Homo sapiens: one gene and its partner. The protein of the gene in region 1 purifies or fractionates together with the protein of each later gene. This does not show direct contact. Each region holds a gene or a part of one and is shown on either strand. Other genes may lie near its edges.

What was found. The genes of interacting proteins can lie anywhere in the genome.
Region 2: the proteins of RYR2 (region 1) and CAMK2D purify together in Homo sapiens (co-immunoprecipitation; one study listed by IntAct). This does not show direct contact.

What each region holds. Positions count from the first base shown.
Region 1 is NC_000001.11:237,047,864-237,052,814, forward strand, and holds part of RYR2 (ryanodine receptor 2), read left to right. Parts: intron 1-4,951. UniProt on the Homo sapiens protein: Cytosolic calcium-activated calcium channel that mediates the release of Ca(2+) from the sarcoplasmic reticulum into the cytosol and thereby plays a key role in triggering cardiac muscle contraction. Aberrant channel activation can lead to cardiac arrhythmia.
Region 2 is NC_000004.12:113,750,954-113,755,904, reverse strand, and holds part of CAMK2D (calcium/calmodulin-dependent protein kinase type II subunit delta), read left to right. Parts: intron 1-814; coding exon of another isoform or gene 815-864; exon of another isoform or gene 865-1,432; intron 1,433-4,951. UniProt on the Homo sapiens protein: Calcium/calmodulin-dependent protein kinase involved in the regulation of Ca(2+) homeostatis and excitation-contraction coupling (ECC) in heart by targeting ion channels, transporters and accessory proteins involved in Ca(2+) influx into the myocyte, Ca(2+) release from the sarcoplasmic reticulum (SR), SR Ca(2+) uptake and Na(+) and K(+) channel transport.

The sequences.
Region 1 (4,951 bases):
TCTATGTCACAAAATCTGGGATCTCTTGAATAACAGAGTCTGAAAAGACTTAACAATGACTTCATCCAGCTCTGAGAGCCAGAGAGATGAAAGGAATGTTCCCAAAGCGACTCTTTTTTGTAGGAGAAACCCACCGTAGATTCGACAGCCCTGGGCCTTCACTTCAAGCCTCTGTTTAGACTTCCCTCTTGCCTCTCGGACCCCAGAAACACCAGCTTGACATCATTGCCTGTTCGGTTCCCTAAGCGACTTTCCTTCCTAGTGTCTCTGCTGATCAGTGGCACTGCCGTTTGTGGCTGTGGCTCCAGTGTGATCCTAACCTTCAGAAGACCTGAGTCTGAGGCCGGAATCCACCAGCACCTAGCTTTACGGACTTAGAACAACAGTGCCTGGCTCATGGGAGTGGCTCAATGCATTTGTCTAGTTCTCTTTCTTCTCTTCTGCATCTAATTTGTCATCATAGCCCATCGTGTTTCTCTTTGCAATCCAACTCAGATTTCGATGTGTTTCATACTCCGTTAGCTTCTTGTTCTGATCCCAGTACTCATTTCAACCTTCGTCATCCTTCCTCCTGCAACAAATCGGCAACCCACCTAGAATCCGCCTGCCATTTTAGTCCTCCTGAAACCCTCGTGTCCATCTCCCAGCCTCAGCTCACATCCTTGCATATCCTGTCTAATTTCTCTACTTGGCCTTTTATGATCTGCCCCTTGATACCTTGCTTATGCTTTTCATCCTACACAGAGTTTTCTTGGATCACTCTAACCAATTCCGATTTTACCTTTCTCCGACCATTTATCACTAATAATTAATAAAATGTATGGAACTGATTGGGAAACTCAAGCAATGGTCAGAGAATGCTCTGACCCTGATGCTCTGTGGGTGAGTTGGGACCGTGTTGGGCATCGGTTTCCCATGATGCTTGGTGCACTGTTAACTACAAGGACAGACTTGAGAGAAATCTTGTGGCAAGGAGAAGATCGGGACAAGAGAAAGGATCCTCCTGCCCACAAGTTTAATGTGAACATCACTTGAATGCGTCCAAATGCAGAAAGAAGGAACCTGCTATGAAGGAAGTAGGCAAAGATAGTGGGGGTGGAAGAATAGAGGTAAGATCTCTTCTGGAAGCAGAAGAGTAGGAGTGTTGGTGGGTGAAATTCTGAGATGAGGACACCGGAGGTGTGTAGGGTGAGAGAGGCCAGGTGATGATTGCTGCTTTGGGAGGCCGCAGTGGCTCCCAGGTCCAGTGGGAGGGGACACCCGGAGAAGGCAATTAGAGAGAGGGAAGTTACAGTCACTAGAGCAAATGAACAAAGGAGAGTAAGAGAATAAATTAAGGATTAATTGAGTCTGAGTGATTAGGGCTGCCCAAAAGAAATACTGGTTTAGAGTCAGAAGCTGTATTTCAAATGAGCAGCTGTCAGGGGGTGAGGTGACTTCCAGGGGCACTGTTAGAGTGTCCAGTGGATCAGTTTCATCCCCTTACTTTCCTCTTTATTAATCACGGGAAGAACATTGGGATGAGGACCCTGCCAACAAATGGTTGTGTGACCTTGGGGCTGGTGGGGTCAGATAGAGATTTGTTTGAGAGAGGTAAAATGGGGAGGTTGTTTTCTCAGAGGGACTTGCGGTAATTTCCATTGTCATGTTCGTAGTCTTAGGGTCAACCAGACTCAAACCATTCTGCAGGATGAGCATAACAAAATCTCACCCTGGGACTGGAAAGAAAAGCTTTGAATGATCCTGGGGTCCCTGGAAATCCTCATCCTGGTGGATTACAGGCCCTGAAAGCTGACAACAAGCTTTGAGCCAGGATTCTTGATGATGGGTGGTTTTCTTTCAGGGAAGAGGAGATGTTAACAATAAGAGAAGCTTGCAGACAGGCATTTAGAAGGAGCTAGGAGAAGAATTCTCTCATGTCAGTAGCCCTCTTAGGGACTACTTAGGTTCGGATCCATTTAGTAACTGAACTCCTAGTGAGCTTGTTTGCAAATCCTCTCTATTGTCCCAGCCGTGAAGTACTTCTCTGGCTTCCATAGTTACCTTCTCCCTGGCTGGTGAAGAAGTGGCCCATGTTTCTGGGGTTTCCCAGAATGTTACAGTCAGCCTCAAAGCCCATGTGGAAGGTATATTTCCTGGTTTCTATTGCAAAAGTTCTGTAGTGGTGTTGCTGCAATGAAATGGAAGTCCAAGGCATTCCCTGTTAGTGACGGAGTGTTCAGAGGACCTACACGTAATTGCTTTCATGTTCGTTACCCAAGTAGGGGACAGAGAGAGAGGAGCCACTGACACGTGAACCCAGGGAGACCTCCCCTGGATGGCTGGGTGCAGGTACTTACCACCCACCAACCGATGATGAGTATCTGCCAATTTACTGGAAGAAAACCTGAAATCTAGCTGTGGAGCCAAGATAGATGCAGAAGAAAGCGAGTGGAACAGGAGAAAGTGTATAGGAACTCAGAGGCTGGCAGGGCCTTCCTGAGTCTGGGAAGGGCTGAGGCGGGAACGAGGACACATTTGCTCCCTGGGACACGTGGTTCTTAGTGTGCAGGGGAAACCCGCATGTGGTCACTGAGGGAGAGGCACAGGCCCACACATCTCATCACCATGAAGGAAGGAACAATTCAATGTGGCCAATTTGTTTTTCTACTATGGCAAGCACTTTTTTTCCTTTAACATTTTTGGTATTTTAAGAGTTTTTGCACATTTATTCTGCTTCTAATGAAGTTTTAATTGTTTCTCTTTCCTCCTGAGTTTAGAATCTGATTCATAATGTACATGGGAACCCATGAATTTCACTCATATTTAATGCATAACCAAAGATATAAACTGAAATGATACATTTTGAGAAGATCAAGAAAAGAAAAAGAAAGCTTACAGGAAAAATGATATCCTTAGTCTTGAGTCAATTGGGATATTGTTAAAATGAAGCCGAACAGCACACTGAGGTGATAGCCACTAGAAGTTGTATTCTCTTCTTTTCCACAGCAGGTTTCTGGTTTTCAAAATAAAAGCAATTATGATTTAAATTCTTCTAGCTTTTGCTAGAGTTTATATTTATTTCATAATCAAAGAAACTTTACATGAGGAAAGTTCGGTCTCACACACACGCACACATGTGTGCACAAATGAATGAAAGATATTCCACCATATTTTTTTTCACCAATTTTGACTGTGGTGTAGAATTCAGTTAAATTAGTTCATGTGTAGCAGTGAATTGTCTGTTGATCTCTGTTATTTCTTCCAGTGCTTTGGGGTTTTTATTTTTATGGTTCCTTTCCCTTTGTCTTTCCCTTTCCCTCCCCTCCCTTCCCCCTTCCCTCCTTTTCCCTTCCCTCCCTTTCCCTTTCTCTCCCCCCCCTTCCTCCCCTTTCCCTCCCCTTCCCCTCCCCTTCCCGTTCCCTACCCTCTCCTCCCCTTCTCTCTCTCTCTCTCTCTCTTTCTCTTTATCTCTCTCCCTCCCCTCCCCTCCCCTCCCCTCTCGTCTTCTCTCCTCTTCTCTCCTCGGGGCTCATGAGTGAGTTACTTTTGAGAGATGCTATTTTGATAGTGGCAGGACCAGCAACAAACCTGTACCATCTCAGCATTCAGGAACAATGGTGTCCACATGTCTTTTTGAGGTTGTACAGGGCATTCTTAAGGCACATTTGAATAGTCCCACAGGCTGAGAGGAGTTCCTCTGATCTTAAATACAGCATCAGCCTGAGGAGTAACCATTTCTAGTCAGGAGATCAGAGCTTTTTTACGCCGTGGCCTACCTACTGCTGTTGGCAACTTTATTTCTTGTAGGTGCATTGATATGTAATTGTCTGGCAGGTCTGTTCTAAGCATTGCATGTGTATTTTCTCATGAAATCCCTAGAAAATCCCTCAGAGGTAGCTACCTGCAAAGAAGTGAAGTGAGCCCAGTGTTTGCAGACACAGGCAGTGGAGCGACAGTTTCAGACCTGGGCAGGCTGGCTCTAGAACTCTCACTTAATCTTGCCATACAGGGGCCCTTTCTGCTGGAGATGGACATATTTTAAAATGAGAGGGAAACTTGGTGCCCTGCTTCTACCTGCAGGAAGTTACTTTATAATATCAAATGTGAATTTCTTACATTACCAGAGCCTTGCAGGCTGTGTGCCACATCATAGGTCCTGTGTTTAATGTTTGTGGAATTGCATCGAACTGATTCCATGAGATAGTATTTTACATAATAAATACAGAGTAGGGTAATTATATGCAGTTTACTAGGGTACCTTAATGCAGTGTGTGTGAACGGGATACCTCTTTTATCTGTAGCATTATACCAGGTACCTAAGAGATACCATGAAGGTGGAAGCCATAGTTCCCGTAGAGTTCAGATGCTCAAACAGTGAAACCTTATATGCATCAACCTGGGAACAGTAAGCTTATGGTTCTAGGGGGATTGTGTCCTGTGTAAAATTCAGAGGGTCCAAAAGGTGAAGAGATGATGGATGTGGTCATGATATTGGGCTCCAAAACTCACGGAGTAAATGGCCAATGGTGAAGTAAATGGTGGTAAAAGCAGAGATTCTATTTCATTATAAAATATGAAAAAAACATGAAAGGCAGAATCCAGACTATAGAACAACATGTAAGGCAGGAATTAAAGTTTCAATGAAATGCCGCCTTGATCTCTAAAAGTGCTCCAAAATCTCTTTTGTAGCGTTTCAGGAAATTTTGATTCATTTTATTTTTGAAACAGTTGACATTTGGGGGAGTGGGCTAAGGGATGAAAATATGTTTTAAAGTGCTTGTTTTTTTAAGGACAATATTTTCAAGAACTGTACTTCAGGAGCATGTCACAGTTATGAGCCTGTAGGCAAGAACAGGGTTTTTTTTTTCCTCTCCTTTTAGGGAAGAACAACATATTGAAGGATGATTAAGACACTTGAAAAATGTAACAGAAACATACACACACACGCATTGCATACACAGGATCCAAT
Region 2 (4,951 bases), on another chromosome or scaffold:
AGGGCATGCTTAGTAAATGTTGAATAGTGATAATAGAATTTTTGCCTTATATTTTCATGAGAATTAGAAATTACGCCATTTTAATCCCAAGCACAGTTAGATTAGTACTTAACAAAAGCCAATTTTTTTCTGCTGCTTTGATATTCTGTTTATTTATACATGTTTAGAACTGTACACTGTTGTCAAATTATATAAAGTCCAAGAAGAGCTGTGACTGCAGTTCAGAATCCAGTGGACTGATGGTTCTGATGGCAGATAATTTAGAAATAGTACCTGTGATTTATTTTGCATTTCAAAGCCTCGTGGTGGTAAAATATTTTATGTGGAAGTAATGGCTTCTTGACATTCATCTCCCAGTGTATTTCTTGATCGTTAGAAACCATTTGACTATTACATAGATTCTGATGTGTCACAGTCACTGTTTTTGTAAAATATAATACATTATAGTATAGGGTTAAAAAATAAGTTATTACAACTGTATTTTACCTCTACTCCATTGCTAAAGTTAAAAGGGATTTCATTTTATATTTCTGTAAAACTTCAGGCTTAATCAGTTAAGTCATTTTGATATTCTTTGATTTTACTAGTTTTATTAATTCCTAAATTGGTGATATTAGTAGTACATGAATCAGGACTTTATAAAACTACTTGACCATGTATGCAAAATTAGGCCTCATCTATAAAATCTAAATGTTTTGTGTGTGTGTGTGTGTGTGTGTGTGTGTGTGTGTATCCCTAAGTAACCTTTTTTGATGTTGTAAAAGGGATGTTAAAAACTAATTCTTGCTACTTTTCTTTTATTTTTGGCTTCCAGGCAGTCAAGAAAGTACTGTAATTTCTCAACTTCATGGTTACTTGTCTTGAATTGGAAGTAGAACTGAGACTATGTAGATGGATTAAGTTCTGATTATACATTATTGATTTGGCAAATTGGAACAATTTGGACAAATTAAAATTTGAAGGTTTCTTGGCAAGAACAACATTTTAAGAAAAAAATTAGTAAATCATTTTTATATTTGTACATAGAATCTCCACAACTCTTCAGTTATGGACCCAGAAGTGGCATGTGTCATCCTTATTATTTTGTATCCTTTACTTACGTTTAGTTGTATTTACATTCTTCTATAGGTCTTGATATTAAACATTCATTTTCTTCTTTCATTGAATGAAAGCATTACTGCTCTTCAGAACTAGTTAGGAGACACAAATAATAAAAAAAAAAAGTATATCCACACTTCCAGGAAATAATAGAATTCTTTTCTGTATTTCATTAAATGAAGAAAATAAAGAAAGTGGTTGTCAGGTGCCATACTGTGATATTAATAACTAGTGTAAACCTCTACCTGATTGTGTGAGAACTTTGTTTAGACAATTAGATTAATACTTCTCATTTCCATTGAAATGTTGAATAAACTGAATATAAAAATTAAAATTTAGCAATATGTCACCTTTTATGGATCTTTTTAATGGTAATAATCACGAATTACTAGAAATCTTACATGTACTGGGCTTTTCTTGGGCATCTAACTTTTTTGTTAACTAGAATTTTAATTTATTTTTAAAGTCTTCCTTGGGCTTATACTGAGGTTGACTCATAGTATTTCTAGGGCTGGATTGGTATATTTTTTAACATCAGTCTTCCCCATTTATTAGGGTGTAATGTATGCAGTGTTTTAATAAATCATTGGCAATTAATGATTATATAGAGGCTGTGTTAAAGATTTTAAGTTACAATAGTATTTCTAGTAAACTACACTGCAATGCATTAAATGGAGTATTAGCAATATTTTAACTGTAAAACATATCTTTATATTTCAAATCACTTTATAGATCATTAAGCATATTCACATGTCTTTATGTGTTTATTTAATAAATATTAAATGATTTCAGTGGACAGTGTTAGGAAAAATAAAGGCTATCTACCTAAATAAACATAATAGAAGACATGAATGGCATTACAATTCAAGCATGAATAAAGTACTATGGGCTCTTAAAGGAGGACAAGATTATTTCTGCCCAGGGAGATAAAGAAAGCCTTTCATATAGTATTGATTTAAAGAAATTTTGAAAGCTATAATGTAGATGGGGCTTAAGTACCACCCCCGCCCCCACCCAACCGAAAAAAAAAGTCTAAATAAATGATTTGGGGAAGTTGCTCAAAGTAGTTTAAATATCTGATTATAACAAAATGTTATGTTATTCATATGGTAAATTTGTTGTAATTATCAGTATACAGTTATTTTTAGAATAAAATTATTTTAAATGACGTAGGCTGTTTCTTAAGTGACAAAATTCCTCTAATTCCAGTTGAGAGATTTAGCAATACTTAAGGAGAAATCATAGACCTTTTATCTGCCATAACTTCTCTTACTCTAGCATAGGGAAATTGGTAGGTTTGAAGAGGAGAGAGGGCAGCTTTTTTGTTAAGTTTGTTTGGTTTTGTTTTTAAATCTCTTAGCTATCATTGTAATTACACACAATGACACAATGACATCACTGATTTTTTTAGTTACCTGAGCCCCTTTTCTGGTGTTACAGTCTCATTTTAACTCCTTAGAACTATGTTTATTACTACCAAAATCAATAATGCCATCTTCATCATTAATAATAATTTAGAAAAATATAAATATTAATAGCCATTATTTGAAGAGCCCCTTCTATGAGACAATAAGTATATATTTACAAGATACTTTGTTTTATTTTATTTAATCCACACTGCAGCCTCCTAGAACAATATTATGTCCATTTTAAAAAAGAATACTGAGGCTCTTGTATAAGGCCTCAAAATTAGTAAGTGATAAGAGTCAGGATTTCAATCTGGTTTTCTCTGACTGTAAATTCTGACTCTTTCCACTGTCACCTCCTGTTGATTGCTATTAGAGAGGACTTATCTTAATCTGTCTGTATTTACCTGTGTGTGCTTAACTGATCTTACAAACTTCAGAGTCCTTCATACAAAGCACTATGCCTTACATTTTATCTTCCCATTGCAGTGTGGGGGATTGAGTATTTCTTTGGGAAAATACATTTAGAGTTCCAACCTGTGAGAGAAGATAGTCTTTTAAATGCTACTATAACAAGATCAAAGTGAAGTTTCAGACAGTCCCTCCATGCTGTCTTCTGGAAGGACAACAATATAGTGAAAAATGTTATTATAAAATGGTAGGAAAATGGTTAAAGAGGAGTTCAGTATTTTGGTAAACTTAATTCATTAACTGATTAAAAATATCTCACTATACAGTAAGTTTCTAGGATTACTTCTTCTAAATGATTCAGTTGTCACTGCAAACTAAAACTCAGCCCTTAACCGAAGCCCAGAGAAACCTACTCAGAAAGCTGTTCTACTCTTCTGGTTCATCTTGTTTAACCAGTGAACAATGGAAGACAAATTTTTGTTGTTTTGTAGTTTCCTTTTGAACAACATTGTTGTATGTAGCAAATTCTTACAAAAATGTGGCAATTTAAAGAAAAATATAAAATTGTCAAGTTCTATATTTGTTGAAAAAATAACTTAGGTGCAGCAAGTAGTATAAAGGTACACAAAGTATTGTGATATAATATTTATATACAGTTAATTGTTTTACAATAGGTTTCCTGTTTTCCTTCAGTTACATTGATTACATAGGAATGTTAAAAGTTTTATTGCATAAAATTTGATATATATAATTATATCATATATATTTAATTTTATAACAATAAGCACCCAATAAGCCTCCACTCAATAACTAGAACATTCTCCCTACTTTTGAAGCTACCTGTGTGCTTTTTGTTGATCCCTATCCTTTGTATCTCCCCGAGAGCTAATCACCATCCCTAACTTTTTTAGGAGAGAAACCTCTTTTTATTTCTTCATACCCTGGGGTTTTTTAATTAACTGGCTGATCTCAGTGGGCCAGTCATTCATGGAATAAATATATGTAGCCATTTTCTAGGTAAATTGTATTTTATTTTATTTTGTGTGGTATATGTGTAAACTCATGGAATAAAATACATTACTTCTCATATATTAGTATATAATTTTACCCTCTTAAATATAGGCAATGCTTAATTTATTTGGAATTTGTTTAGTAACAGGAAATTATTTTCTTCCTATGTCTGATAAAATTTTTTTTAAAATTATTTATTTATTTATTTTGAGACAGAGTCTCGCTCTGTCGCCCAAGCTGGAGTGCAGTGGTGCTATCTCGGCTCACTGCAACCTCGGCCTCCCAGGTTCAAGTGATTCTCCTGCCTCAGCCTCCTGAGTAGCTGGGATTACAGGTGCGTGCCACCACGCCTGGCTAATTTTTGCATTTTTAGTAGAGGCAGGATTTCACCATGTTGGTCAGGCTGGTCTCGAACACCGGACCTCGTGATCCACCCACTTAGGCCTTCCAAAGTGCTGGGATTACAGGTGTTAGCCGCCGCACCTGGCCAAAATTTTATTAATGATAATGTATACACATTGAAATAAAGCATGAATAACTTATATAAAAGTAACTTATTAAATGTAAATATAGTAAGTGAAAATTTATCAAAATTTTCTGTTTTATAAAGAAATTGTGGATAGTTGATATATGCCACATTATGCTATTAGTGTTTAAATTAAAATTTGATGTTTTGTTGAGGAAATAAGTACTTTTGCATTTTTTTGAGGCAATGTTCTGGATAATTTGAATTTCTGCTGAGGGTTATTTGTTAGTAATACAGCCCCAAACTCAGCATATTCCCAGTAGACTCATCAACTTTCCCCCTCTGTGAATGGCACAATAATTTTCCTAAGCTTTCAAGCATGCCTGATTTTTTTCTTTTTCTTATCCCATCTCAACACCTTTTTCATTTCTTCCTTTTCACCATCCCAATTTGAACTCTCTTTTCTTTTTGCTTCAACTCTTTGTTTTGTGTTTTGAGACACAGTTTCTCTGTTACCCAGGCTCTAGTGCATTTGTGAGAACCTAGCTTACTGCAGCCT